Linked DNA regions of Homo sapiens: all the other regions are linked to region 5. The links come from fine-mapping of genetic effects on gene expression. A gene starts in region 5. Each other region holds a variant in brackets. All regions are shown on one strand. Distances are between the middles of the regions. Region 1 overlaps WWP1 (WW domain containing E3 ubiquitin protein ligase 1). Region 2 overlaps WWP1 (WW domain containing E3 ubiquitin protein ligase 1). Region 3 overlaps WWP1 (WW domain containing E3 ubiquitin protein ligase 1). Region 4 overlaps WWP1 (WW domain containing E3 ubiquitin protein ligase 1). Region 5 holds the start of RMDN1 (regulator of microtubule dynamics 1).

What was found. PIP is the estimated chance that this variant, and not a neighbour inherited with it, causes the effect.
Region 1: its variant is the best candidate, but not a certain one, in a credible set for the expression of RMDN1 in whole blood (INTERVAL, PIP 0.78).
Region 2: its variant is the best candidate, but not a certain one, in a credible set for the expression of RMDN1 in CD4 T cells (BLUEPRINT, PIP 0.74).
Region 3: its variant is the best candidate, but not a certain one, in a credible set for the expression of RMDN1 in monocytes (Schmiedel 2018, PIP 0.59).
Region 4: its variant is the best candidate, but not a certain one, in a credible set for the expression of RMDN1 in lung (TOPMed, PIP 0.61).

Annotation. Positions count from the first base shown.
Region 1 is chr8:86,377,294-86,383,519 of GRCh38, reverse strand. WWP1 (WW domain containing E3 ubiquitin protein ligase 1) reads right to left here. Exons shown (of 25, transcript NM_007013.4): 4 at 2,656-2,794; 5 at 1,891-2,015. Among named protein-coding and RNA genes, the nearest start is that of WWP1-AS1, 36 kb to the right of the region's middle. The variant T/C (reference allele first, on the strand shown) is at 2,581.
Region 2 is chr8:86,465,985-86,472,210 of GRCh38, reverse strand. WWP1 (WW domain containing E3 ubiquitin protein ligase 1) reads right to left here. Exons shown (of 25, transcript NM_007013.4): 25 at 3,708-5,417. The coding sequence ends at 5,318. It also overlaps a transcript of RMDN1 not described here. Among named protein-coding and RNA genes, the nearest start is that of RMDN1, 40 kb to the left of the region's middle. The variant A/G (reference allele first, on the strand shown) is at 3,140.
Region 3 is chr8:86,408,166-86,414,391 of GRCh38, reverse strand. WWP1 (WW domain containing E3 ubiquitin protein ligase 1) reads right to left here. Exons shown (of 25, transcript NM_007013.4): 9 at 2,518-2,854. Among named protein-coding and RNA genes, the nearest start is that of WWP1-AS1, 67 kb to the right of the region's middle. The variant G/AG (reference allele first, on the strand shown) is at 3,688.
Region 4 is chr8:86,419,062-86,425,287 of GRCh38, reverse strand. WWP1 (WW domain containing E3 ubiquitin protein ligase 1) reads right to left here. Exons shown (of 25, transcript NM_007013.4): 10 at 1-65. Among named protein-coding and RNA genes, the nearest start is that of WWP1-AS1, 78 kb to the right of the region's middle. The variant T/A (reference allele first, on the strand shown) is at 3,454.
Region 5 is chr8:86,506,065-86,512,290 of GRCh38, reverse strand. RMDN1 (regulator of microtubule dynamics 1) reads left to right here and starts at 3,605. Exons shown (of 10, transcript NM_016033.3): 1 at 3,605-3,799; 2 at 5,179-5,296. The coding sequence starts at 3,671. It also overlaps the pseudogene SLC2A3P4. RefSeq lists an enhancer at 3,691-3,860.

The DNA.
Region 1 (6,226 bases), 130 kb after region 5:
TCCGCCTGCCTCAGCCTCCCAAAGTGGTGGGATTACAGGCATGAACCACTGCACACAGCCAAGGTAATTTTTAGCTTATACAATTCGTGAGGGCTTCATTTCGAAGTGTATTGACATTACAACCTTCCTAGAAGATCATTTGGCAGATAAGTGGATAGTTATCTTTATATGGAGGTTCAGTAGAGTCTAACATAACAGAATTGAAAACAATCTAGATGTCCAACAATGGGAATATGGTTAAATAATAATAATCCAGGCAAGGTACTGTATACTTATAAAATCTATTACTTCTTCCTGTATCAAGATGAATTGCATGACTCATTGAGAAAAAAAAAAATGCCATGGCATAGCAGAGAATCAAACTTACAATGCTTTAAGAAAAAGAAAAAGTTTTAAGCCAAATATATAAAAATTATTATGGTTTATACTAACTACTAATTACTAGTTCTAATTATTATAATCCATAATTATATTTTCTTAACTCATAACTCACTTATTTCCAAAAACTAGATCAAAACAGATCTTTAAGTTACATGTGGATTTGCAGAAAGAACCTTTTTAAAGATAACTTGCTATTTTCATCATCAGCATTTCATCCCTTACTTCATTCAGCAAACCTACTTTTAGGAATTAATAAGAGAATCTCTACAGAAATAAGAAGAGCAAAAATATTTACAGATTTGAGCAAGAGCCTATTTTTAGTGAACTGTTACAAGCTACTTAAGTGTCAGACAACGGGAAACTAAATAAATTGTGGTGTGAGAAATCATTACATGGTATTTAAAAATCATAAACTAGAACCCTGGTTTTTTGCGGGTTTGAGATGGAGTCTCACCCTGTCGCCCAGGCTGGGAGTGCAGTGGTGCAATCTTGGCTCACTGCAACCTCCACCTCCCGGGTTCAAGCGATTCTCCTGCCTCAGCCTCCCAAGTAGCTGGGACAACAGGCACATGCCACCACATTCAGCTAATTTTTGTACTTTTAGTAGAGGCGAGGTTTCACCATGTTGGTCAGACTGGTCTTGAACTTCTGATCTCAAGTGATCTGCCCACCCTGGCCTCCCAAAGTACTGGGATTACAGGCATGAGCCACCACCCCCAGCTAGAACCCTGGTTTTTAATATTCAGAGGATCACACATTTTGAGAATCTGATAAAAGCTATGAACCCTCTCCCCAGAATTACACATATATGTACATACCCCCATATTTTTGCATATGATAGGAGGTTTACAAATAATTAAACTCTAAACTACCTTAAAATCCCAGTCTAGAAAAAGTATCATGGAAACTTAATATTTATGGTATATTGTTAAATTTCTAGAAAGCAGAGGATAAACTAGTAGATGCAAAGCAAAAAAGAAATATGTTTGTGTCTATGAAAAACAAAAGGACAGTGACCAAATTATTAAGATTGGTTATCCTTGGATAGTAAAATTATAGAAAATTTTTATATTACTCTATAATTGTCTATCTTCTTCATGTTTTTTACAATAAACTAATTATATAATAATAAAAGAAAACTTAAGAGTTACAATTTATTTTACCCAAATAAAATTGTTAGTAGTCAAGTGACAAAATAGAGTAGGGTCATGTAATGATAATTTTCTCAAGTTTTAAAGAATATAATAATAAGCAAATAATAAATGACTGATAGTCACTGATAATAGGGTACTTGTGGATGACTGAGATTACCTTGTAAATCTGCAGAATGCAGAAAGGCCATGGTAAATATTTCCTATTTCATAAAATGCCACAAAGTTAATCAATCACAAGCAATAACTGAAGTTCTTTATGGATACAAAACTATGTTTTTGCTTTTAGGATTCAGGATATGTTCAAAGTGTCTAAAATAAACTTATAAGGAAATAAAGGTCAGAACAAAAAACTTACATTTTCTATTGTGTATCAACAGAGCTTGTTTCAAATCTATCGTTGCTTTTCCTAATAAAGCATCTGCTTTTAAAGTGCGATGGCTCCAAACTTGAAATTCCAATGTAGTCTGTGGCGTAACATTTCTGGAAGGGTAAAATTATTAACAAAAATACAGGAGTAGACGTTGTCATTCTATTAATAAGTAACAATTCCTATTAAAGCATTTATTTCAGTAATGTTTTAAAAACCGTGAATTTCATTTATTTGAGAAGAAATATTGTATGAAACAGGAAACTACTTGAATCATAAATAAAAATATTTTACTTTCAAATACATTAGGACTTTAATAACTAGATGAGGATTTTTGGAATCAGCAAGCCAAAACACCAACACAGGAGTCTTACTGAGACTTCATAGTAACACTGTTTGTATTTGAACAAATGTCTAAAGACTTACATGATACTTTTACTATACACAAATTTATGCCATTATTATTTTGAAATGCCAAAATTAAGAATGACTAATTTGCAGTCCTATTTATTTCTGTACCAAAACAGTCAGAGAAAATGGAAATAATTTGGTTTATAAAGCAAAAGCAAGCATTATTATGCATCCTCCCCTTAAAAAAAAAATTTAACCAAAAATTTCTCCATACTTTAAATTGTCGATCCACACTTTAAAAAAATCACTCATTACTTTGAAGTCATT[T/C]TACAAAACAAAAAACATATTCCAAAAAATACACTTTCTTGTGAAGATTTTCCGTCCTTTACACAAGGTACTTACACAGTTAGCTGTTCATCCCATTTTGGATTAGAAGAACTACTGGATTTTGCTGTTTTCGTAATTTCTCCATCTACAACTACTTCTGTATATATTGCTGTTCCGAACCAGTTCTTTTTTCTTTTAAGTTTGGCACTAGAAACTAACAGACAAATAATTCACTAGTGAGTATGTGTTGCCAAAAAGTAGTACTGCACACTAATCAATCAATAAGAATGGAATTGTGCTTCTTGTGCAACTAGAACTCTTCTCGTTGGCAGAATGAAGAAACAATACAAAAGGGCTACTGATAATGCTTGAGAGCCATTTGAATGTTTCTGTAACAGTTTTAGTGAGCTATCATTCACATATCATATAATTCACCCACTTAAACTGTACAATTCAATGGTTTCACTATATTCAGAGTGGCACAACCATCACCACAATCAATTTTAAAACAGTTTTGTTACCATAAAAATAAACTCCATACCATTAAGCAGTCACCCCCTTCTTTCTCCTCCCAATCAACCCTCTCCCCACCCCCATCCCTAGGCAGCCACTAACCTACTCTCTGTCTCTTTAAATTTGCCTATTCTGGACATTTCATATAGATGGAATCATATAATGTGGGTTTTTTTTGTGACTGGCTTCTTTCACTCAGCATTACATTTTTGAGGTTCATCCATATTGTAACATGCACCAGTACTCCACTCCTTTTCTTGCCAAATACCATTCTATTATATGGGTATATGACATTTTATCTATTAACTGATAAATATATGAACTGCTTCCACTTTGTGGCTATTGTGCATAAAGCTGTTATGAACATTTGTGCACAGGCTTTTTTGTGGACGTATGTTTTCATTTCTCTTGGGCATATACTTTGGAGTAGAACTCCTGGCTCATGTGATAACCCTCTGTTGAGTAACTGCCAGGCTATTTTCCAAAGTGGCTGCACCATTTTATATTCCTATCAACAATATACACTGATTTCTCCACATTCTCACCAACAACTGCATTAAAGATCAAGGGAAAAGTGTCTTCAGATTCAACATGCCCATTAACATCCCTGCCAGGTACTATTAACTTGTCTTTCTGAAATTACATAACTGTGGCACTTAAAAAAATGCTTTAATGTTTTATCTGGAAAGTTAGCTTCGAAAAGAAGTAGTATTTGCATTTTCAAATAAAAGCTTAAAAATCAAAATGTCATTATAAAAGTTAATCATAACCCCTTCCAGAAAGTGAAAATCTAATATACCTGAGATATGAAGAAATCAGGGACTATCTACTTTCTGGGCAAAATACTGATGAACAGGCAGTAAGAACAACTTATCAAGATCACCTCTATAATCAATTACCTGTGAACACCCTAGATCAGAGATGAGGAAGGGAAAAGCCTCTTTCATGTCATACACACCGGATGTTAAGGATATAAAAACAACCAAAGCTATGTAAGCTTCCATTCTATTGTGAGAGAATAATAATCTAAATAGTCACACAAATAAATCACTGAAATACAATGTGATAAATGCAAGATTCCAAGCAAATACTATATTTAAGTACCGGCAACATAGCAATTAAAGAGTGTTCAATGTTATGTCTGAACTGCTACTACCAGGGTCTTAGCAAAACTCATTTCCATCCTTCATCGTTCCAAACTGCTCTAAGTTCAGCGCCACTGGACTAATATAGAAGGCCCAGACTTGCTCTCTCCCAAGAAACTTCCCAAGATTCTTTGAATAAAAGTGCTCATATATTTCCTCAGTATATGTAAGTCTTATCCATATAGCAGAAGACTGGAAGAAGGAAAAGTCAGTATATGATGGTGTTAAAAGCAGAGGGATAGACATATCTGGGTTCATTTTTCAAATGTGCCACTTACTAAAAGCCTGACCACAGTAAGTCAATTAATTTCTCCATCCCTTACTTGAAAAATCAGAAGAACAGCAGTACCTGATTCTTAGGATTGGTGAGTGAAGGCATGCAAGGCACTATCACCATCAATGAATGTCTGGCATCCAACAATGGTAGCTGTTACTCTATTATTACTGACTATATAGTATTAACTCTTCTCTGAGTTCATTACAGATCCATCCAAAATACGTCCACTGAATACCCTTACTTGGCAAAATACTCAACAATACTAGAGGGTAAGGTAAGAAAAGAGATTTTTCAAAGATAATAATCTTTAATCTCATGAGGAATTTATAAATATGCTAGCAAAATGTACATATAAATAATGTGATTTTAAATAACTAGAAGACAACCTTATTAATTCAAAAAGTTGTTCTAGTTAGTAGAATATATAGATTTTTTTTCTCATTTAATGAGTTTCCTTTGGTGTTATACACAGAATGTCCTCCACTCTAAGGTTATATAAGTATTTTTAAACTATCAGAAAATGAGTCACCTGTGAGAGGGTAGGGAGAGTTAACTCAAAAATCCCACTCACAATAACATCCCTTCAAAAAATCTAGTAATAAACTTAAGAAATAAGTAAGAGTCACATGAAGAGAACTATAAAACTTTACCAATGGAAACAAAGGCTTAAAAAAAATGATATGATATATTCCTAGATTTGAAAAGTTTAACATTGAAATATTTCAATTAGCTCCAATTTAATACATTATTTTAAAATAAAAACACCAACTGATTGGTTTTGAGTGTTTTTGGTGGGGGCAGAGGAAAAGGAAGGGAGACTTAAATATTCAAATAAAAGCCAAAGAAAAATCAAGAACAGTAAACGTGTATTTTAAAATGCAAAGTAATAAAAGGAAATTTCTCAAAATATTTTTTTAAAAAGTACCATAAAGTGAAAATAATTAAAATGGTTTGACAGTGATGTAAAAGAGAAGTAAAGAGAAAAGCAAGATACTAATGCATAACAGTGGCATTTCAAATCAATGGGAAGATAGATGAGACCATAAATTTTGAAACATTTGAAAAGAATGAAGTCTATAATTCACACCACTCATACAAAAATAAGTGGTATATGATTTGACACTTTTACTTTAAAAAGTGAAAATGCTTTAGAAGACACAATAGCTAAAAAAAAATTATAAACATGAATACAACAGCCCATTTTTTCTTCAATCTCATCCTTTATACATCTTGCATACTCTATGCTTCTGACAGTTTCCTGTTGAAAGTCTAAAATCTAAAATATCGAAGATAATACACTTCTATATGCTACTATCCTTGAGTAGCTGGTACATTACAGTATATTACTATATGACAATAGGTAGTTTTCTGTTTGATTTTTTCCATCAGTTTTTCCGCGTTCCATGATCAATGCTCTTATTCTTACATGTTGCTGCCAATCAGATAAGGGTTAAGAACAGAAATGAGGATAAGAGTAAATATGCTAAAAATAAAAAAAAAAAATTGGCTTAGGGCAGAGAACCTCGGTTTACAGACAATAAACAGCCAGACTGCAATATTAGAGGGGTCTTAATCTGAGTACTTACTGTTTTTAAAAAGAAAAGAAAAGCCTGGGCGTGGTGGCTCAGCCTGTAATCCCAGCACTCTGGGAGGCCGAGGCAGGCGGATCACCTGTGGTCAGGAGTTCGAGACCAGCCTGGCCAACACGGTG
Region 2 (6,226 bases), 40 kb after region 5:
TTTATACATGTGTGTTTGTGTGTGTATAGACACATACATTTCTAAACCTTTTGAAACTGATTGCAAGCATCATAATAGTTCACCCCAAATGTGTCAGCATGCATTTTCTCAGAATAAAGACATCTTCCTAAACAAACACAAAACCATTATCACAACTGGAGAAGTTAACAGTTCTCTAACATCATCTAATATCTACCCATATTCAAATTTTCTCAAATGTCCCCAAGATGTCTCATGCTTTCTAAAATCAGGATCCAAAGATTATACATTGCATTTGATTTGTTGCTAATCTTTCCATCCACAACAGTTCCCCATCTTTTTCTTCTTGCAACATTGACTTTTTGAATAGGCCAGTCCGGTTGTCATAGATTCTCTCGCATTCCAGATTGGTCTAATTGACCACACTTTGAGAACCGCTGTTCCAACTTATTTCCAGGACTCAAATTAGTTCTATTAGATCTTTGCCTGACTTTCACATTTATCACTTACTGATTTTTCTTTTAGCCTTTTTGTTTCATTTTCTTGGCTCTTTTCATTTATATCTTCCATATCCCTTATTTTACATTTGGTTGTATCTCTTCTTCCTTAGATACTTTATAATTGCCTTCACATCTGATATGTGTTTGTCTTTTTCTCCGAATTTTTTTCCTGATTTTAGCCAGTCATTCACATCTGCATTTTGTTTGTCCAGTTCTGAGTTTTTAAGTTGCTATTTCAGATTTTTTAAATATCTAATAATTTAATTCATATTAGCATATTGTGTTAAAGTTTACTCTCCTTTTTCTCATTTTCAATTTCTCTTTAGAGTGACTTTATTTTTTTTCCCTAGGGATGTAATTTTATGTTGAGTTACCAGCAATACTAGGTCATCAAATGGGAAGAAAGGGTCTGGGTTAGTTCAAGAATATTTTCTGCTTAGTTGTTTGTTTTTTGTGAGATCAGGTATCATTCAATAATAAAGCTTTTTATGGAGGTCTTACCTCCTGATTCCTTATTAGAACTTTAAAAAATATTTTTACTTTCAAAAAATCATAGATTCACAAATTGAAAAAAAAAAAAAAAAGATCCTGTGTACCTTTCTCTCAGCCTATCCCAGTGCTAACATCTCATATAACCTGTAGTACAATAGCAAAACCTGGAAACTGACATTGGTACAGACCACAGACCTTATATTTAAATTTTACCACTTTTAAATGCTCTTGTGTGTATAGTTGTATGCAATTCTATCACATGTAGATTTTTGGTAACTGCCACCATAATCAAGATACAGACCTGTTCCGTCATCACAAAGATCCCCAGTGCTGTCCCTTTACAGTCACACCCATCTACCTCCTCCTCTCCCCCACCCATCCCTAACTCTGACAGCACTAATCTGTTCTCCATAATTTTGTTATTTCAACAATGTTATACAAATGGAATCATACAGTGAGACCCTGTGATACTTTTTTTCACTCAACATAATTCCCTTGAGACCTAAGTTCTATCAATAGTTTGTTTCTTTTTACAGTTGACTAGTATTTCATTTTATGGGCATACCATATCAACCATATGCTGAGGGGCATTTAGGTTATTCCTGATTTTTAGCTATTACAAATAAAGCTGCTATGAGCATTATATGCAGGTTTTTATGTCTACATAGATTTTATCTCTCTGGGATACATGCCCAGGAGTGTGGCTCCTGGGTCCTTTTATCTTCATTTTTCCCCTTTACTCTCTGAGGGTTAGGTTTCTTCTGCAAGACATGGTGCCTTCCCAAGATTCTGATTCTGTGCACTAAGTCTCTTCCATTTGACTTCCCAGGAGCCTGATTCCCCACGTGTCACATTGGTCCGTGACGTTTCCCCACTAAGGGTGAGACCCATTACTGAGAACAAACCCCAGGAATCCCTTACATTCTCCTTCCCGTGCAGCCCCCACCTGATTGTTCTTGTGTGGATTCCAGAGCTGACTGCTGGATTGAGATGCTTATTTCCCCACGTACATGTATATCAAAGTAAGTTGGTAGTACTCTGTGTTCTAAGTGTTATTACATACATAGGCTATATCTCTCCATTATAGATGTTTCCTTCCTTCCTTTTGAGGATATGAGTAGAATACTGATTTTGGAAAATGGCCGTGATTCTATAAGAACCTAAAAGCTCTCAATTTCTTGATGGCCAAGTTATCTCAACTGAGTTTTTAATCATGGGCTGTGTACTAGCTGTGGGTGTTGTAAAAATGGCTTCTCTCATACTCACTTTCCTCATGTATAAAATAAGCATCATTAAAGACAACCCCACCAATTTCATGGAATTGTAAGGATCAAGAGAATAATTTATGTAAAGGATTTACCATGAATACCAGTAAATACAACTACTATTATCTCTGATTTTGTTCTTGGTTGAGAATTGAGGAGAGAAATTTTGGAATATAGGAGATGTCACTTTTGGACTTAGATCAAATCCTCAGTTGACCTAAAGCTTGGCTTTTAAGGCCAACTGAGTGTTACAGGAGAACTTTTAGTTGTGTATTATTTCAACAGAGGAAGATTTTTACTTCTGCAACATCCACCACATCATCTTAGGTTCAACCAAACATTCAGACTTAATAAGTCTACAATAGGCTGTATTTGGCACCAGTCTACTCAGAAGGCTATAGGACAGGAACCACACAGCTCACCAGCAGGACAATTTTGAACCTCCTCTCAGAAGACGGTCTTCTAACAGCAATCTATGAAATGGTATCTCCCCAGGTGACAGCTCACGGTCCTCCTTAAAGGACATACAGTTACAAGAGTTTTCCACTCAGGTATGCCCAAAGCTGTGGCTTTCTGTCGTGTATCTGGAGATTTCCCAGTCCAGATGCAACTTACCAGTCAGGGTCATATTTACCAAAAGCAAAGCTGCATGGCAATAAATACAGTTGACACATACCATCCTATTTAGTTGTCAGGGTAGGAAGAGCTAGGTAGTTAACAGAAGTCATCAGGGGAAAAGGTTTTGTTAACCTTTTCATTTTCAACTACTTGGGAAGTACATGGGGGGGGCGGGACAAACAAACAAAAAAAACACTGGTAAGCTGCTTTCCCTGGAAGACAAACAACTAAACTGATCTAACAGATAGAATTGTGTTGCTTAACTGATCTAACAGACAGAATTGT[A/G]TTGGGCCTGTGAGCTATTCCCTGGGCCATTTACTGGTGGTGGGGGTGGGGGAGTCACCAAAATGAAGTAGCAATATAAACCTGTCTCTGAGCCTCCCTCTTGTCTGTTTCCTCATGAACTGTGTTTTGGGCACAGAGAGTCTTGCACTCCTAATTTCTTTCGGTTAGTCCAGCACAGAACAGGAATGGGAAGGGAAGAAGGGGAGAAGGTGAGTGGGGGACCATATTTCTACAGTTTTTCTGACTGCTACTGGGTAGATAAATCAAGAGCTCTGCCTGTAGGTCTTGGATATCTATAATTGGGTATGAAAAGTGGAAGACCCTGATGAATTCTCCAAAACAAAGCTGGTTTTGTCTCTTGTAGGGTTCTGTGTAGCCTCACCTAGTGCATCGTAATTTCTTACTTGAGGGAGACCAGCACCCTGAAAACGAACTGGAAAGCTGCCTTCTTCAGTCAAATCTGCTAAATCATACCTACAATGAATGATATTCAATAACTTCTGTCATGGCAAAATTTATACAGCAGTGGTACCATTTGTAATTCTAATACTTAACTCTTTTATGGTATACGCAGTCCTTTTTGAAGGCCAGTTTCCCTCTATCACATAACCTGTCACATACATTAGAATTTTTTTTTTAATTCTTTAGGCTTGAAAATTACCAGAGTGTTCATAATAAGGATTTGGAAAAGGAGTCTATTCAACCAAGCAGATCTCTGCCTTTCTTTCGTCTTTACTATGAATTCTGAATAAAATGGAGAACACACTCTCAATATGTAGAAAAATAAAATTTTGGCAAAACAATAATTACTGTTTTTCTGTATGTACTTAGCAGTGAAATATTTATAGGCAACAGATTTTAAGAAGTCAGTTCCATGGCTATTAAAAAATGTTTAAGTTAATGAAATTTACAGTGCATATTAAAAGCATGATACAAATGGAAATTTAAAATTTTGTATTAGGAAGCCCAGTTTGCTAAAAGTAGCATTAATATCATTCACATCAGATTTTAATTTGTTACACATTTTTGTAGTTCAGCAAAGGCCCCTATGATGAAAAACAATTAAAAAGTGTTATGACAAAAATAATTATCTGTGTAAAAAGGGGGAGACCCAAAAGATTTTTCATATGGTTATTTAATTCAGTTAAATAGAACTGTTATGAATTTGAGAGGAATGAAGATATTCAAACACTAACAGAAAATCATTAGCCTTATATTAGAGCATTCAAATGCTTATGTAACTCTTCAATCCATCTGGCTTCATAAAAACCAAAATTTTGAACACAAAAAAGTGGCAGAGTTTACATTACCTTTTGTATGTTCCTAAGTATGAAATTGCATCAATTTATTATGAATTAAATTTGAAAAGCATCACAGATTTAAAAACAAAGTACAAAAGAGCCTGATTCTTTTTAATTCCACAAATACCTAGCATCTCAAAGTAACATGTAAACAAACTTCTATGCTGCTCAATGAATCCTTCCAATTTCGATAATAAACTAAATAGTATTGGATCTAGTATATGACTTTCATGTGTAAGTTATGGTTCTATCCATTACTTTAACAATATTACTGATGTAACAGAGAAAAATTTTCAACTATTGTATTTATTTAAAACAAACTGACAAGTTCAAGCACCTGTCTTCAGAAAAGCCAGCAGCATTTTTTTTTTTTTAACATACTCAAAGTAAGATTTGGCCTAAGCCCTTAATACCTTTCTGAACAGCCATGCAACTAAACACCCTCAGGAGATGTTACATAAGGGAGAGAAGAACATGGAGCAATTTGCACTTTTTCCCCTAGATAATATTAACAAGGTAAAGCAAATCCAGATCTTTATGAATGAATGGCTGTCATGTTTAATACACTTGGAGCTCTATAAAACTAGAGCCACTATCATATATGTTTATATAGATATATATGTATTTTTAATAAAGTCTCTCACTTGCTTCAAAATTTAAGGATGATCTTTTTCCTGGTCAGTCATTTCAAGGGAACAATAAATAAAGTAGAAAAGGATGAACTGTTTTGCATATTTCTGTGGAAGAACGGAAAACATACTTTGAGAGGTTCGGAAAATTCACTGTACAGAATGAACAGCTTATATACACTATCTGTGCAATTTTTCTTGGCTGGGGTATTTAAATGCAAGAGCTCCTCCAAAATAAGAAGCCACATTCATTCTTGTCCAAATCCCTCTGTCTCTTCTATTGCAAAAAGAAGTTTTTCCTTTAGTTGTTCATAACTCTTATATGGTGGTAGATCCAAGCGATTAAAACTGAACAGAAACAAAAACAAAATCAGATGTTTTCAATAAAATGAAAAAAATCTAATAGAATACTTTTCAAAGCACATAGAAATGCTGAATGGATATATGTATACTATATATGTTAAAATTTTGCCAGAAGTATTTAGAGTAATCTAAATTTAAGACTTACATATAAAAACTATTTTAACATCTCCAAGAGGAAAATGGAATTACAAATAATAAGTGTAGCAATATGGATAAAGACAAATTTAAAAAAAAAAAAAAATCCATTTTCTTTTTACTATTCCTGTTACATGTGTCATGAGTCCTCTTAACTTCTCTTAGGATAAGAGTCCATTTCTTTCATCCACTCAGTCACTCATTCATCAGTCATTTACCGAGAATTTTTTATATAACTGATAAGCTAGTGATACAGTGAAGAAAACTAAAATCCCTGTCTTCATGGAATTTACATTCTGGGGTAGAGACAGTCAATTAACAAATATATATGTTTCTTTGTCTTTTCAAATAATCTAACCACATATATAAACTCTTCTAAAATGACACTTTTTCAATCTTGCCATACTCAATTCCATTCTGGTATTAACTGATAAAAATTTTAAAATACTAAAAAATGCTTAAAATAACTATTATTTTTCAGTTTACAAAGGTGGAATAACATTTCGTTTTGTGAGGTACAGCACTGAGTAGCTAGATTAGGATTCGGGTGTTCAGGGTTTTGGTCCCTACAGTAGCAGTGACTAGTGAGATAGCCCTGAGTAAGTCAGAACCCTTCTGTACCTTCATTTTCCCATGTGGAAGGTTTCTAGAGATTATCC
Region 3 (6,226 bases), 98 kb after region 5:
CTCTCTTAATTTCTCCCCTGGATTAGTGGCTTTTAAACTTTTTTTGACCACAGTTTACACAGTAAGAAGTGTGTTTTATATAAATATCTCTGTGTATACCAGATTGCTATTTATCTACTGATTTTACTTACATACACACACATACACACACACACACACACACAGAAAAACAAACTTTCAGGAAACAATGCTTATTCTTACTACATTTAACATCTTCCAATATTTCCTATTCTCGCCTATATTTCTTTATTTCATTATGTGTTCAAATGCTGGTCATAACCTATTAACGGGTTGCACTCTACAATTTGAAAAACACTAATATAGATTACTGCAAAATTCTAATACAAAGATCATAAGTGGTGACAACAAGTCTGCTGAAGCATTTATCTGGTCTCAACAGAATTAGGTTTATGTACTTACTGTTTTGAACTGGAATGCCGGCTTCCCTCATTTATAAAACAGCCTGGCTGCTATCCCAACTCCTTAACTCCTCAGCTGTCTATACCACTGCAAAAATGATCTTAATAAAAGCAAAGAGGATTATGCCACTCCCCTGCTTTACATTCTTTAATGCTTATTCGTGGTTTTCAGAAAAAACTTCCAAACCCTTCGAAATCACACAAAATTCTTCACAGGGCTGTTTTCTCTTCAGCATTATATATCTTGCTGCCTCAAATGCTGAACTCAAACTATAACAAAATAATAATTCCTGGGTTCAGCATACTCATTTTCATGGGTGCTAGGAATCTGAATGTGCAGTCGGCTCTACTGAAAATGAAATTTTCACCACTCGTGCCTCCACTATTTGCTAACTCCTCCTCTTCTTTCAGAATCCACTGACGTGTCATAGCTTTCGAAAGTATTCTTTGACGTCAACGGCGCAGGTAACTCCTCCCATTCCTTCTCTGCATGTATTCCTTGTCATGGCATCCTAAACTTACCTCTGGCATAGCTTTAATTGTACTGTATGCTGGCTGATTGTCTACTTCTCTTCCCCTCCCCCACCACTTAGACGATGAGGTTCTTGACAGTAAGAACAGCTTCTTATATGTCTTTGCCACAGTGACTGGCACATGAGAGACTAGGATAATTGACTAATTTACCAAACATGGGACACAGGACAAGAGATTTTTGAGAGGGAAAGGAAAGCTAATATAGGGTCTGAAACATTTCCAGGAAACAGAAGAGGGAAAAGTAGTTGAAAATAAGCTCAAAGAAAAGTCTGGCCTGAACATATAGATTTAATAGTTAAAATGATGGAGAGCTGGCCAGGCATGGTGGCTCACACCTGTAATCCCAGCACTTTGGGAAGCAAGGCGGGTGGATCATGAGGTCAGGAGTTCGAGACCAGCCTGACCAACATGGAAAAACCCCGTCTCTACTAAAAATACAAAAATTAGCTGGGCATAGTGGCGGGTGCCTCTAATCCCAGCCACTTGGGAGGCTAAGGCAGCAGACTCACTTGAACCTGGGAGGCGGAAGTTGCAGTGAGCCAAGATCGTGCCATTGCACTCTAGCCTGGCCAACAAGAATGAAACTCTGCTCCAAAATAATAATAATGGAGAGTGCTAGATCTACTGGGGTAAGCACACAAAGGAAGACCAAAGGCTGAAACCGTAATTAAGCAGTGGACAACATCAGACGAGCCAGTAAAGGGCACTGAGAAAAAAAAAAACAATTCCAAAAAAAAAACCAACGTACACTAACATAGTGACTGAGGTAACAAAATGAAGACAATAGTGTAGAGACATCTAGAAGTGCAGTTTCAATAGCTACAACAGTTGACATTCTGATCACTGTAAACTGTGTTGGAAAGCACGTGTCCATATATACTTTCTGACTGTACTGTATATACTGTACACGTTTACAACTGTGAATCACTAAATAAGCTTCTTGAAGGCAGAGACAATTAATCATTAATTAATATTAGTATTATCAGTGCCAAAGGTCAAAGAAATTACCGAATGGAATACACATATAGAATACTCTTTAAAGAAAATCATGGGAAGTTGAGTAATTATAATGAGAAACTTAAAAGAGATTAAGAATTACTAACCAGCAATGAAAAACTGCATTTTTAATAGAGCCAATCAGCAAGGTTTGTGACTCCCCAGCACTCAATATTAGCTGAGGAAAAGAAGAGCTATTTGCTCTCCAGTATGAGGTCTGGAAAACAGATCACCAAGGATGCCAGAGAACTGAGGATATTATATGGAGTATCATGGTCACTCTTACGAAAAGTAGAAATAAACCAAGAATCAAATTAAGAGGGTCTTGCTAATTAACATCAGGTTTTTTCTTTTCCCTTCGTACTACATATATGTCAACCAGATGAGCAATTGTTCTTAGTTTCAAAAAGTACTTGTTTTGTAGCAAGTAAATAAATAGTATGATTCAGATCCCAACTTAGATTTCAAAGTTCTGAACAATGAAAACATTTTATGCACACATTCAATAATCGTATGTTAACAGAGTTGCTACTTAAATGCAAGTCAGACATTAAAAAGCTTAACATACCCTGATGGCAAGGTTTCTGTGTTGGCATTCCCAGACTGCTGCCGTACAGGATCCATACACCCATCTGGCTGTCTTGATTTGGCTGCTTCAAAAGCAGAACTACTTCTAGAATTAGAGGTGTCAGGCTCTAATATACTTCTAGCTTCAGATTCCAATTCTGCACTGGTAGAAGGAATACATTCATTGTTTTCTGAGGAAGTCAGTATTTCTTGAACTGGAGGATCTTCAACAGTAGTACTAGTGCAATTTGGAGACAAGGCATTTTCTTCAGACACTACTGGAGTACCCGTGACAGACGCATTATCAGTTGGTGCAAATGAGGATGATTCTCCATTAACTGAGAAGGGAAAATTAATAAAATCATCTATCAAGTAATGATAAAGCAATCAATTACCTAATCAATTGACTACACTTATTCAGAGCCTAATCCAGACTAAGCAACTACAATCCATTCTCCAAACAGCAGACAAAGTAATATTTTCAAAATATGTAACATAAAATAAAATGGAGATTTTATTTTTGTTGCTCAAAATTTCAGGGATGAATATGTAAATGATAAAAATTTAAGTATGTATAATAATAACAACCTTAAGGAGAGAGGAACCAGCATTAAGATAACCAGTGTTTTCCCTCCAAATCATCAATTCTGAGAGGAAGTCTGTATGGGCCATCTAAACTCTGAAAAATGATCCCTTTCAATCGCCCTTCCCTTGTGTAAGTGGTAGCTAACATCAAACGAACTGTTTTGCCAATAGTAGGAACTGTATGATGGCATCAGTTCTTAAGATAGTACTATAGGGGTTGCAAGAACCCATTCTACACTTTTTCAAGAAATAACCCAGTACTGCAATCCAGTGACACAGTTTTCCTAATTTTCATTTTAAGTGTGATTGATCTAGTTCGACTACGTGTCACTATAAAAATGAGTCAAATTAAAACTGTAAGGGTGAATAGATTACAGAACAAAACCTACTGGAAGACCATATATCAAAGTTCTAATGGAAATGGCAGAGGGAGACATAATCACAAATTTTAGGAGAATTAATGACAAAAAGAAAACACTCAGATTAAATGCTACTGGACATGGCCAAAGAAGTACCTAAAGATGTAAGAAAGAATGGTAACAAAAGAGCTTAGAATTCATTCCAGATACAGAAAAAAAAAAAAAAA[G/AG]TAAGTAGAAGAAAATGAATTTTGGTCAAAAGACCCAAAAAAAAGATCAGAATTTCCTAATGCACCTGATAAGACTCCAGAACTTACTGAAAATATAGTATCTAAGTCCTCATCCTAGACTTACTGAATCTCTAGGGGAAATCTCTAGGGAAGAACCTGGGGATCTGCATTTTTAACAAATGCATATGATTTTTTTACTCAGGAAAGCTGGAGAAACCATGAAATATACCTTTCCAAGTGTTATAAAGAAAACATGTTTAATATAAATAACATTAGAAATACCACGTACAATTTCATATCAATGAGTTTGAAATTAGCTAAACTAACTCAAGGGAAAGAAAAAAAGACAAATCAGAGCAGCAATGGAAAAGGTGATGAAAGTTCTAATATCATCCCTCCTAAAGGCTCCAGGCTCAGAAAGGTTTTTGAGAAAATTCTATGAAGCCTTTATTGGATAGATCATTCTTATGTTATTTAAGGTGTTATAACACATTAGGGGAGAAAAAGTGAAAAGGAGTGTCCTAACTTATTCTGGGAAGGTAATGTAAACTTTCAAAGCTGAAACTGAACAACAACAGAACAAGAAGACTATAGACTAACATCATGTATAAATTCAAGGATGATTTGATATTAGGAAACTACATTAGAAAATCTACTGTTAGCAGATTAAAGGATAAACGTCATATGATTATTTTCAAAACAAACCAAAAGCATTCAAGAAAATCTTGGTAAAATGCCTGATAAGAAGAATCATGAAAAATTAAGAAGTAATCTAGATTATCTATCACAAACCTACAGTCATTAATATACAATAATTGTAAAACATTTTAAGAACTTTTTTTTTTGAGAAGGTGTCTCGCTCTGTGGCCCAGACTGGAGTGCAGTGGCACAATCACAGCTCACTGCAACCTCCACCTCCCGGGTTCAAACGGTTCTCCTTCCTCAGCCCCCCAGTAGCCGGGATTACAGGCACCCGCCACCACGCCTGGTTAGTTTTCCTATTTTTTGGTAGAGATGGGCTTTCACCTTGTTGGCCAGGCCAGTCTTGAACTCCTGACCTCAAATGATCCACCCAACTTGGCCTCCCAAAGTTCTGGGATTACAGGCATGAGCCACTGTGCCCAGCCTATTGTAAGAACTTCTATTAAGATCAAGAATAAAGTAAAATCAGGGCTGGGCACAGTGGCTCACGCCTGTAATCCCAGCACTTTGGGAGGCCGAGGCGGGTGGATCACGAGGTCAGGAGTTTGAGACCACCCTGACCAACACGGTGAAACCCTGTCTCTACCAAAAAATAGGAAAATTAGCTGGGTGTGGTGGTTGTGTGCCTGTAATCCCAGCTACTCAGGAGGCTGAGGCAGAAGTATTGCTTGAATCCGGGAGGTAGAGGTTGCAGTGAGCCAGGATCACGCCACTGTACTCCAACCTGGGCAAAAGAGCAAGACTCCGTCTGAAGAAAAAAAAAAAAAAAAAAAAAAGAAAGAAAAAGAAAAAGAATAAATTAAAATCAGCAACAAAACAAGGAAGATCACAATTACCAAGCCAATTCAGTATTGATTATATTTGACAATCCATTAAGAAAAGTCATAACAACATTGGAAAGAATATGGTAAAACTCATTTGTAGTGAAAATGACAAATAGATTATTTATTTAGAATACACAAGAAAATTTTTTTAAAAACCCCATTAGAACCAATTAATTGGAGCTAAAACATTTCAGCAAAATGAACAGACACAAGATCAACAACAAGATTACTTCAAGACCTATCCGAAGAAAAAAAATTTTTTTTTTTTTGAGACAGAGTCTTGCTCTGTCACCCAGGTTGGAGTGCAGTAGCGCGATCTCAGCTCACTGAAACCTCAGCACCCCAGGTTCAAGCAATTCTCCTGCCCCAGCCTCCCAAGTAGCAGGGATTATAGGCATGCGTCACCACACCCGGCTAAATTTTTTTGCATTTTTAGGATTTCATTATGTTGCCCAGGCTGGACTCGAACTCCTGACCTCAAGTGATTCCCCAGCCTGGGCCTCCCAAAATGCTGGGATTACAGGCGTAAGCCACTGCACAACCAGCGTGAAGAAAACACTTTAAAAAACATTACTAAAAAGAATGAATACAGACATAAAATATCTCTCAATGGGAAGATTCAGTATTGTTAAAATAATAATAAACAATAAACAACTCTCCTTGAAATGCAAATGTTGGTGAGATGCAAAGCACTAGGAATTCTCATTCACTGCAGTGGGAATGCAGGAGTACAGCCACTTTGGAAGACAGTTTGGCCGTTTGTTACAAAAGTAAACATACTTTAAAAATACAACCCACCAGTCTCACTCCTCAATCCAACTGAATTGAAGACTTATATTCACGTAAGAGCCTGCACACAAATGTATATAGCAATGTTTTTCACAATTGTAAAAAACTGAAGTAACCAAGGAGCCTTTATAATAAGTGAGTATTTAGTGATAAAAAGAAATGAGAAGTCAAGCCACAAAAAACATGGAGAAACCTTAAATGCACCTTGCTAAGTGAAAGAAGCC
Region 4 (6,226 bases), 87 kb after region 5:
TGGTAGTTCGAGTATTATGATCCACATAATAGGTTCTACCATGAGGATCTTTTCTTTGTTCCCACCTTTAATAAAAATACAAAAATAACAGTAAGAGACAACACACTAGGACAATCTTAAAAATGACTCTTCCTTATAATCAGAAAAATTACAGATAAGCTTTACATTAAAAGACTATACACACACACAGCTATATATATAAAGGCTATTATATATATATACAGAAGTGTTCATTTTCTCAATTATTAGTACTTTTTTAACCTCTTAATTATTCCCTTTTTATTACAGTATTGGAAACTCAAAGTATAGTTAGCAGAAAAGGAAGAGAATACCCCACATTTTAAAAAGTTACTTACAGAATTCCAAATTATCAGAAAACAGAAATTGAATCAAGAATTAAGAAACCTCTCCCTCTCCCCTCCCCTCCCCCTCCCCCTCCCCTCCCCTCCCCCTCCCTCTCCCTCTCCCCACAGTCTCCCTCTCCCTCTCTTTCCACGCTCTCCCTCTGATGCCAAGCCGAAGCTGGACTGTACCGCTGCCATCTCGGCTCACTGCAACCTCCCTGCCTGATTCTCCCGCCTCAGCCTGCCGAGTGCCTGCGATTGCAGTCGTGCGCCGCCATGCCTGACTGGTTTTCGTATTTTTTTGGTGGAGACGGGGTTTCACTGTGTTGGCCGGGCTGGTCTCCAGCTCCTAACGGCGAGTGATCTGCCAGCCTCAGCCTCCCGAGGTGCCGGGATTGCAGACGGAGTCTCGTTCACTCAGTGCTCAATGGTGCCCAGGCTGGAGTGCAGTGGCGTGATCTCGGCTAGCTACAACCTCCACCTCCCAGCCGCCTGCCTTGGCCTCCCAAAGTGCCGAGATTGCAGCCTCTGCCCGGCCGCCACCCCGTCTGGGAAGTGAGGAGCGTCTCTGCCTGGCCGCCCATCGTCTGGGATGTGAGGAGCCCCTCTGCCCGGCTGCCCAGTCTGGGAAGTGAGGAGCGCCTCTTCCCGGCCGCCATCCTGTCCAGGAAGTGAGGAGTGTCTCTGCCTGGCCGCCCATCGTCTGAGATGTGGGGAGCGCCTCTGCCCCGCCGCCCCGTCTGGGATGTGAGGAGCGCCTCTGCCGAGCCGTGACCCAGTCTGGGAGGTGAGGAGTGTCTCTGCCCGGCCGCCCCATCTGAGAAGTGAGGAGCCCCTCTGCCTGGCAGCCGCCCCATCTGAGAAGTGAGGAGCCCCTCCGCCCGGCAGCCGCCCCGTCTGGGAAGTGAGGAGCGTCTCCGCCCGGCAGCTGCCCCGTCCGGGAGGGAGGTGGGGGGCAGCCCCATAAGCGCTAACTTAAGTTAGCGCTTATGGGGGCAGCCCCCGCCCGGCCAGCCGCCCCATCTGGGAGGGAGGTGGGGGGCAGCCCCCGCCCGGCCAGCCGCCCCGTCCGGGAGGGAGGTGGGGGGCGCCTCTGCCCAGCCGCCGCCCCGTCCGGGAGGTGGGGGGGGGGCGCCTCTGCCCGGCCGCCCCTTCTGGGAAGTGAGGAGCCCCTCTGCCCGGCCGCCACCCCGTCTGGGAAGTGTACCAAACAGCTCATTGAGAACGGGCCATGATGATGATGGCGGTTTTGTGGAATAGAAAAGGGGGAAATGTGGGGAAAAGATAGAGAAATCAGATTGTTGCTGTGTCTGTGTAGAAAGAAGTAGACATAGGAGACTCCATTTTGTTCTGTACTAAGAAAGACTCTTCTGCCTTGGGATGCTGTTGATCTATGACCTTGCCCCCAACCCTGTGCTCTCTGAAACATGTGCTGTGTCCACTCAGGGTTAAATGGATTAAGGGCAGTGCAAGATGTGCTTTGTTAAACAGATGCTTGAAGGCAGCATACTCCTTAAGAGTCATCACCACTCCCTAATCTCAAGTACCCAGGGACACAAACACTGTGGAAGGCCGCAGGGTCCTCTGCCTAGGAAAACCAGAGACCTTTGTTCACTTGTTTATCTGCTGACCTTCCCTCCACTATTGTCCTGTGACCCTGCCAAATCCCCCTCTGGGAGAAACACCCAAGAATGATCAATTAAAAAAATAAATAAATAAAATAAATAAATAAATAAAAATAAAAATTACCCTTTTTCTGACATTTGATATTTATCTAGGATTACAATAATTATGCTAATTAGTTCTAGTCTATTTTTGTCTGAATACATTTTAGGTATTCAATAAACACTAATTTTCAGTTTCCAAAAAAAAAAAAAAAATGAAGAAACCTTCAACTTAATATTAAATCCAAGGCACAAAGTGTCTATGAAATAATATACTGATTTTGCTATAATTTCAAAAGTACCCATCTAAAAGATTTTTAGCAGAAATCGCCTTAAAGAAATATGTGGTGATACTGCCCCATGAAAATTCTTTCATCTGTGTGCACAGTATCTTTTCATTGTGCATATCTATCCTAATTTTGGTTCTGGTTTTGGTAGGTCTCTGAATTTATGGAAATGACGTTTTTATCTTTTTCCTATTCTATTTTGAAGACTCTCAATCTCTTGTTTCTCCCATTCTCATTTTTTCTTCTGTGATTCCCGTTAATTTCTCTTTAGTCTTCTTAATATGGTAAAGAAGAATAATTTTTAAAAATAAAAACTGGTGGGCCGGGCGTGGTGGCTCACACCTGTAATCCCAGCACTTTGGGAGGCTAAGGAGGGTGAATCACCTGAGGTCAGGAGCTCAAGACCAGCCTGACCAACATGGAGAAACCCCATCTCTACTAAAAATCCCAAAGAAAAAAAAAAATTAGCCAGCCATGGTGGCACACACTCCTGTAATCCAAGCTACTCGGTATGCTGATGCACGATAACTGCTTGAACCCAGGAGGTAGAGGTTGCAGTGAGCCAAGATTGCACCGCACTCCAGCCTGGGTGACAGGGCAAGACTCTGTCTTAAAAATATAAAATAAAATATAAATAAATAAATAAATAAATAAATAAATAAATAAATAAATACAAACTGGTACTTCTGAGTTTAAGACACTAGTTTTCAATTTTAAAATACAATAACCAGAAAATATTTTCCTTTTTCTTAAACACAAGAACTCGAGAAGGCAGTGTTTCGGAAGCGACATGAGAGAGTATTCCTGGGGTGCTGACAATGTTCTCTTTCTTGACTTGTGTGATGGTTACAAATGTGTATTTTGTGATAAATCAGTTTCATCTATATATTTTGAAGGAAAGTACTTTTCTGTGTATGTGTGATGTTTCACAATAAAAGATTCTGTTTTTAAATGTGAGTGCTTATCAAGAAGCCCTAACTTGGAATGGTGAGTTTTGATAAGTTGTCCTGCACCAAGAGGGAGGCTCAAGGATCTCCCATAAAGAATCCAGCACTCTTTCCTTCTACCTCCCTTCCCCATCTGCAAAATTTTGAGAGAGGATCAAATAGCTTTTCCCGATTATTTGTTAATATGGTAAATTTATATTTTCAAAAAAAA[T/A]TTTTTTTTTTTGAGATGGCGTCTCGCTCTGTCCCCCAGGCTGGAATGCAGTGGCGCAATCTTGGCTCATGTAAGCTCCGCCTCCCGGGTTCACACCATTCTCCTGTCTCAGCCTCCCAAGTAGCTGGGACTATAGGCGCCAGCCACCACGCCCAGCTAATTTTTTGTATTTTTAGTAGAGACGGGGTTTCACCGTGTTAGCCAGAATGGTCTCAAACTGCTGACCTCGTGATCCTTCCGCCTCGGCCTCCCAAAGTGCTGAGATTACAGGCGTGAGCCACCATGCCCGGCCTATTTTCAAATATTAAATCAATCTGGGAGAACCCCCCCAAAAAAGAACCCAATTAAATTTATTTTTTTATTAAGAGTGCTTATTTTCTTTAAATTATTTTTATACACGATAACCATATATACTGAAACTACTCCCTAGTTTGCACCCATAAACACATACATACTTAAAATGACAAATGCACACAAAAAATTTAAAAAATTGTTTAGCCTGCATCTAACAAACCTAAGTCACAAAATGCTTAAGTAGTAACCATAAAGATTCCCAAGTTCAGAACTGACTCGGGATCACAAAAATTATTAAACTTGCCTATTATATCCTACACTGGAACACTCATGATATTCAGTACTGTAAAAACTTAGATATTTCTTATAAAGCATTTCACTAAAATCAGACAATCTGAAAGTTATGATTTACTTTATTTGTTTATATAAAAAGCTCACGGGAAAGAAGGAGTTAAATATAAAATTTCATTTTAAAGGCCTGTCAGGAATATGTCTAACATGTAACAATGGGCTATTCTGTATGAAAGCTTAACTACCAAAACCAAATGAATACCTAAAAACCTGATCAAGTTTCACTTTTGCTATTTTTAGGTAATAATTCCCATAAGCAGTCCTTGAATTTTTATTGCTGTCCTACAGCAAAATTTCCTGGTTTCAACTGTTTCTTCACAAATATCCTTTACTATTTTTAATTTAGCTTTAATTTTTTATCAAAATTACATATACTTTCAGATAGTTTAAAATATACCTTCATAGCTATATAATTATATATACCTTCACATAAACAGAGTCATACAGTCTGTGAGACTTATTGCAAAAAACAACAGTACCTACTGTCTCTTTCACTTCATTTTCCACTCCCCAAGGCAACATTTTCAACTGTTTCAGTCCATTTTTTTGGTATTTACTTCTTTTACTTATTAACTTCCTTGACTTATTGTGATTTGTTTAATTTCAAACATAATGTATTGACTTTTTATTAGGAAAGGTGAAGCTGCAGGTCTCTTTCCTGCACACATACACATCTACACTTACCCTCCTCCCAACCATTCCAAATATACACATATGTTGTACCTTCCCTTACAGTTATCATTATGACTATGTAAACTCTCCCCACAGATGAGCCATGGAACATACCCCAATTTCTTTTTTTAAAAAATACTATTAGCTAGAAAAATTATCTCCACTTCCATTTGCTTATTGTCTACATTCTTATCGTTAAACCCCAAATACTTTTCCAGTTGCATAAATCTCCTCTTAAAACGTTCAAGCTCATTAGCTGTTCTATGATTGCACCTGCCTTCTGATTAGCTTCTAGTCTAGAGTGAGTGCTGTCTGAGGCCAGTTTGGGCTTTCCTTTATCATTGTGCGGCATTCCTTTCACTCCTCTCCTAGCAGACCCTCTAATTCCTGCCTCCAACGTCTTTTACTTTCACTACCCAGTTTTGGGAAAACACAAGTCCTAGTAGCTTTCTAAGAAAGAAGACATAAGAAGTGAACTTTTGGAAACCTAGGATATGCATAGAATGTATTTATTCTATGCAAACACTAAACAGTGTGGCTGGATACAGAATTATATGTTGGGCATAATTTCCTTCAGCATTTAAGGCATGGACCCACTCTCTTCCACTGTCTTCTAGCTTTTCGTGTTGATTCTAGGAAATCTGATGCCATTCTGATTATTATGAAACCTGCTTTTTCAATCGCTGAAAATATTTAGAATTTAATTGGCCCCAATGTACTAAAATTTTCACAACAAATTGTCTTAAAATAGATCTGTTTTCATTTATCATCCTGGATTTTTAGTGAGTCTTTTCAATGAAGAAATTTGTGTTTATTCTTCAATAAAGAAATTTGTGTTTGTTATTTTGTTAAGGACTTCCTCCCATTTTCTCTCTTTCTAGAACTTTTCTTATCAGACTGTCTGAACTGGTCCTTATGTGTTACTGTCTGGCAAATTTCTTTACCTTTATCAGTCAAATTTCACACTGAATTAAATTTCCAAGAGTTTTTTAGTCCTTTGAGTATTCCATTTTTATAGCATTGGGTTCTTGTTGTATGTATGTTGTATCTACTTTTATCCCTCAGAGGATATTAAAATAGTCTGTTATCTTTTGTTTTTTGAGATGGAATCTCGCTCTGTCACCCAAGCTGGACTGCAGTGGTGTGATCTCAGCTCACTGCAACCTCCGTCTCCCAGGTTCAAGCGATTCTTCTGCCTCAGCCTTCTGAGTAGCTGGGACTACAGGCGCGTGCCACCATGCCTGGCTAATTTTTGTATTTTTAGTAGAGACAGGGTTTTACCATATTGGCCAAGCTGGTCTTGAACTCCTGACCAAGTGATCTGCGTGCCCAGGCCTCCCAAAGTGCTGGGATTACAGACGGGAGCCACCGCGCCCAGCCCTAGTCTGATATCTTAAAACAGTATTTTCTAGGTTGTTTTTTTGATCTCTATCTTTCAAATTAAGAGGTTTCCCTC
Region 5 (6,226 bases):
CCACTAATTGGATTGCAAGTTTCAAATTTTCCAGAATATATAGTATCCATACCTAACCTTCAAAACTTTTCTTTACACTAAAATAGGGAAAGAGTAGAGGCAAGGGGATGGTTTTGTACTTTTAGTATCCAAACAGCAATCTATCATCTAAATACATAGTGCCATAGCTATTCAATGTATTTATTCATTTTCCTTAACTACAGTCTAAATCCCATTCTACTTTTGTTCTCATTCATTCACCCATTAATTTAACATGTGTTGAATTCATGTTAGATACCAAGCCTAACAAGGTTCTAGAAATAAAACACCACCTGGTGGAGAGTTAAATGCATGTTAAAATGAAAGATATTCACAAAATATTCTTTCTCCTATGTATTTTGATCCTCATATTTCTACCTTCACTCTTTCAGTCACATTTTTAATTACCTCATCCTGTCTTATAGCTTTTTTTTTTCTTTTTCTTTTTTTTTTTTTGAGAGACAGGTTCTTGCTGTCACCCAGCCAGGCTGGGATGCAGTGGTGCGAATACGATTCACCACAGCTTCAACCTCTCAGGCTTTAGCCTGAGGCGATCCTCCCACCTCAGCCAGTAGCTGGGACCTACAGGCACGAGCCACCGTGTCTGGCTAATTTTTGTACTTTTTGTAGAGATGCGGTTTCACCATGTTGCCCAGGCTGGTGTCAAACTCCTGAGCTCAAGAAATCCACTGGCCTTGGCCTCTCAAAGTGCTGGGATTACAGGCATGAGGCACCACGCCCAGCCTTAGTCTCAGAGCTTTGAATTCCATCTATATTTTCTCTCTCTTTTTTTTTTCTTTGAGACGGAGTCTAGCTCTGTCACCAGGCTGGAGTGCAGTGGTGCGATCTCGGCTCACTGCAAGCTCCACTTCCTGGGTTCACGCCATTCTCCTGACTCAGCCTCCTGAGTAGCTGGGACTACAGGCACCCGCCACCACACCCGGCTAATTTTTTGTATTTTTAGTAGAGACGGGGTTTCACTGTGTTAGCCAGGATGGTCTTGATCTCCTGACCTCGTGATCTGCCCGCTTTGGCCTCCCAAAGTGCTGGGATTACAGGCGTGAGCCACCGTGCCCGAACTTCTTTAATTTTCTTTTCTTTTTTTTTTAAAGACGGTGTCTCACTCTGTTGCCTGGACTGGAGTGCAGTGGTGTGATCACCGCTCCCTGCAACCTTGGACACTTGGGCTCAAATGATCCTCCCAGCTCATCCTCCTGAGTAGCTGGGACTACAGCATGCACCACTACATGCAGCAAATTAAAAAACAAAAACAAAAACAAAAAACAAACAACAACAAGAAAAACATGTTTTTGTAGAGACAGAGTCTCACTGTGTTGCCCAGGCTGGTCTCAAACATCCTGGGCTCAAGCTGTTCTCCCGATTTGGCCTCCCAAAATATTGGGATTACAGGTGTGAGCCACTACGCCCAGCCTATATTCTTAAGGTTATCAAACTTCCACACCTTTCCTCTGAAACTCCACACTCCAACTCTCTATGCTTTACTTGGCTGTTATATTAGTTATCAGTTGCTGTGTAACAGATTACATCAAATTTAGTGGCTTAAAACAGGAACAATCATTTATTATCTGTCATAGCTTCTGTGGTTTAGGAATTTAGAAGTGGCTTAGCTGGGTGCTTCTGGCTCATCATCTCTCTTGATGTTGCAGTCAGATATTGGCCAAGGCTGCAATCATCTGATGGCCTGACGGGCTGAAGGAGTTCTTCAGCCCAAAAGTTCAATTGTGCCAAGGCTGAGAAACCCTGCTTTAAACCGATGGGACTATACATTTAAAAAATACTAATGTCGTGAAAGACCAAGGCTGACGATTTAAAGATTTAAAGAAAGTAGAAACATAACAAATGCAAGACATTATCAAGATTTGATCTTGAATTTAGAAAAAAAAATCATTAGTATAAAGGACAGTATTGGGAATTAAACAAAATTTGTATATTAAATAATAGTATTCTGTCAATTTCAGTTTCCTGAATTTGATAATTAAACTGGGACTAAGTAAGGGAATGTCTTGTTTCTAAGACTGAAGAGTCATGATATCTGTAATCTACTCTCAAAAGGCCTTACAACAGAAAATACTAGGAATATAATATGTGTATTATAGGTAAGATATGTAAAGAAAGATAAAGCAAATGTGAGAAAAAGGTAACAATGGCTGAATCTAGCTGAAGAATATATGGGAGTTCCTGCAACTTTTCTTAGGATCTAATTTTTTTTTCAAAGCTAAAAACTTAATTACAAATTCACTCTAGCAGAGATATCAGAAACTTAATTTCACTGTTATCATGGTATCCAGTGGCATAAACATTTAGCAATGTTGAGGGGGTAGCTGCCAGTAGAAATGCATAAAATAAAAGTGATTCTGTCTTTGGGAAAAAACAGCTAGGTTTCAGAAGTTGGGAAGGAGATCTATATATTTTTAAAGATAGACTTTAAAGACATAATCCTAAAGAAATACAGCTGATTTAATGGGACTAGTGGAGGTAGCAATCATATAGTAGAAGGAGCACTGGACTCAGAGTAGAAAGACATGGATTCCTGTCTTCTAACATATCCTTGGTTAGGTTAATACATCTCTTTGAGTTACAGTTTTTTCATTTGTAAACCTGGGATACCACTTACTTCACAAGGTAGTTCGGAAGATCAATACGACTATGTATTAATTCCCTATACAGTATTAAAAGTACCATAGAAATGCAACCTAATTTTTTAAAACCATGACTCGCCTCCCTTATTACCCATAAGATTTTTCGTTAAACCCATATAGTAGGTACTCCCTTTGCAGTCTGTGTTTCCACCCACCCTGATCAGGCCTCAAGTAGGATCCAAAATTTCTTCATTTTCCCACAAAAGAATTCCACTCGAGCAAGAAATTTTATTTTACTCGAGTAAAATAAAATACTTTGCTCGAGTAAGTAAAACATCTTATTGAAGAATTTTAGGGGAGACCAGGGTTTGTTTTTGTTTCTGTTTTTTACTACACATGCCCTAGCATTCAAGGGCATCAGTATCCTTTCCAGAGGCCTCCTCCCGCTAGTTCCTCTTCCCAAAACGCTTTGCATTTTTTGTTTCTTTGCTCTGGACTCTCTCTTGAATCTACCCCCTTGAGTCGCTCAGTCGAAGAGACTGAGACTTTCCCTTCTTCATGTTGGGCAACATAATTCTTCCAATTATTTACTTCCAAAAAAGACCCACTAGTACCAAGATTCAATCTACTTTTGAAGGCAGCAGATAATTAAAATGACAATTTTTTTTCTGGCATACTTGTATTCTCGGGTCTATTTCCGAGCTTTCAGTTCTATTCTGGCGACGAATCCTTGTGCCCAAACCATGAAAGACCCCCTAGAGAGATGGAGCAGAAACAAGTCAGAGCGCCTGAAGAGAGCGCTCTCACGGCCTCAGTCCTGGACGCAGGCGCGGAAAGTCCATTAAGTCCCACCCAATCGGGGTATTTCCCACCCCCTAAGCCCGTGCACCGGAAACCATGGGGGCGGAAGAGGTGCTGGGCAGGAGGCGGAAGAGGTGCTGTGCAGGAGGCGGGCGGGCGCGGTTCTTTCCGGAAGGATTGAATCTCCTTTAGCCCCGCCCGCCTCCGTAGCTGCCTGAAGTAGTGCAGGGTCAGCCCGCAAGTTGCAGGTCATGGCGCTGGCTGCTCGACTGTGGCGCCTTCTGCCTTTCCGACGTGGAGCCGCCCCGGGGTCTCGTCTCCCTGCGGGGACTTCGGGCAGCCGCGGGCATTGCGGCCCCTGTCGATTCCGCGGCTTCGAGGTACCCCCGTGGTCCTGGCTCCCGCTCCTCACTTCCTACTCAGTGGGTTCCGGCTCCCCCTTAACTTAAGTGGTGGCGGCCCCGCGCTGCCTAAGGAATGTGGTGAACCGAGGAAAGAACTCGGGGCCACTGTGCCTGGAACGCCCGGACAGGTCCCTTCCATTTTGCAAACCTCCACTATCCTTAACTGGGGCTGTCAGAGAAGGAGTGGGGTTTGCCCCCACGCGCCCCAGAAGCTGCCTGCTACCCGCCCTTCTTGTGCGAAATGTAAAACAGGACGGGAAAGAACCTTGACCGCTGTGAAATTATTCTCCCTGTAGGCGATGACAGATACAACAGCGCTTGAGGCTGCCCCTTTCAGACTTTGAAAAGTGTGGTGTGTGATTTAAAAAGTTCTACGACTCAGAAGCAGAGATTTCATACTGTTTAGGTTTTTGTTTAAAAATGTTTATTTCTCAGTTGCCCGTTGTATCTGCATAACGTCAATGAAGGTTGTCGGCATGTTGTAGTCTCAGTTCTGGTATTTCTATTAGACTGCTCGTGGGCCTCTGTTTATTCTTGTCAGGGAATTGGAATGGCATTAATGCATATGATATATTTCACATGAACTAGGGGTTTCATTATTTTAAACTCAAATTTTTAACTGCTCAGTTAAAATCTTTCAGAATTATTATGGGACTGATGGTGGGGAGGGGTGGTTAAAATTTGGCATATTCCCCTTCCTTGGAAGTTTATAACCAAATGGGGAGGTTATAGATAATATAGGCAGAGAGATGGGAGGAGTTCTAAGTATGAAACTAGTTAGCCGTAAGTTTTCAAATTGGAACAATGATGAGTTTGAAGTCCCATTTTAGGCCTGGCCCCTTGGCTCAGCCTGTAATCCCAGCACTTTGGGAAGCCGAGGCGGAAGGATTGCTTGAGTCCAGGGGTTTGAAACCAGCCTGGGCAACACAGTGAGACCCTGTCTCTACAAAAAAATTTAAAAGTTAGCCATGTACATTTTTATATGTAGTAATTACTATATATGATAATCTTGTCTGTAAGATTCATTTTTATTATGTGTTGGTGTCTCATATTTTACTTCATACAATTTGCAATATCCATGCATTTGCAAATAAGTTGTAGCAAATAAGTTGTAGCTCTTCCTTTCCAGCAGGAGTGTGATTTTTAGATGAGCGGCGACTCCAGGGGATATCTTTTTCTCAATAAGATACGCTTTGAGATAGTTTTACTAAAGATTTTGATGAAGTAATTTTTAAGCTTCCAGTATTATGATCGATTGCTTTGGGGGTGGGAGAAAATTCATGTAATTTTTGCTTGGGGTAGCAGTACCTTCAAATTTTCAAAGTTTGTAACTCTTAACATAATTGTTTCCATAGGTAATGGGAAACCCAGGAACTTTCAAAAGAGGCCTTTTACTCTCAGCTTTGTCGTATTTGGGTTTTGAAACTTACCAGGTTATCTCTCAGGCTGCTGTGGTTCATGCCACAGCCAAAGGTAAGCATAAATTAGATATATGGAACATTTAGAGTTTTTTTGTGTGCGTACATTCAGAATTTTTATTTTAAAACAAAGAATCAGGGTAATGTTAATAATAGAAAATCCATATGGAAATATTCACAATCTGCTCAGTGAGAAATGGGAAAACAACTTCCCTGCCTAACTGCCAACCTACTGTTTGAGGAGCCAGAAGTTGACGTGAAGTTGGAAGAAGGTCACCTTTTCCAGCTAAACCCCACTCCATAGCTATGTGCATTTTTATTTGAAGTCTCCGTGACCAGAGGAAACAGTGAGAACTGAGAACCAAGATACCGTTATCAGCAAGGGTTTGGCTAAAGGGTCTGAGATGTGTAAGCACCAAGAAGGGGAAGGGAAATTGAGCAACATATGAAAAAGGGGCTGTAGGAACACAGAAAAAATAAGTCAACAATAACCTATTTCCATCCAGAGCAAAGGGACAGTGCACACATATTCATCCTCTCAAGTGTGGGCTACACTGTACATTGACTCATACTATCTCGAACATGGTCTGTTGGAAAGATTGAGACCCCCTAAGGGCACTTGGCATAGGACCACAGTGACATGGTAACAGACATAGACAAGCATGGCATGACCCTAAAGGCAACAACACACCTTTAGATAATAATCGTTCAGAAAAAAATCCCAGAGCTGAGGTTATAAATTCCAAGTTAGCTATAAACATTCTTTGGGGAATTCCTTTAAAGATATGAGTTAAAATAAAACAAAATCAACACCTAAAATCTCCTAAAGCACAAAATGGAGAAATAATGAATCTCTACCAAGAACTGATTATTTTAAGTTTCTCATTTGGATGGCTCTCCCACCAGATAGGTGGTGGGATTACTTCAAAAGTAATGAGTCTCCTACAAGGAGGAGTTGTTTGGTCCAGTGAGGGGGAACAAGCTT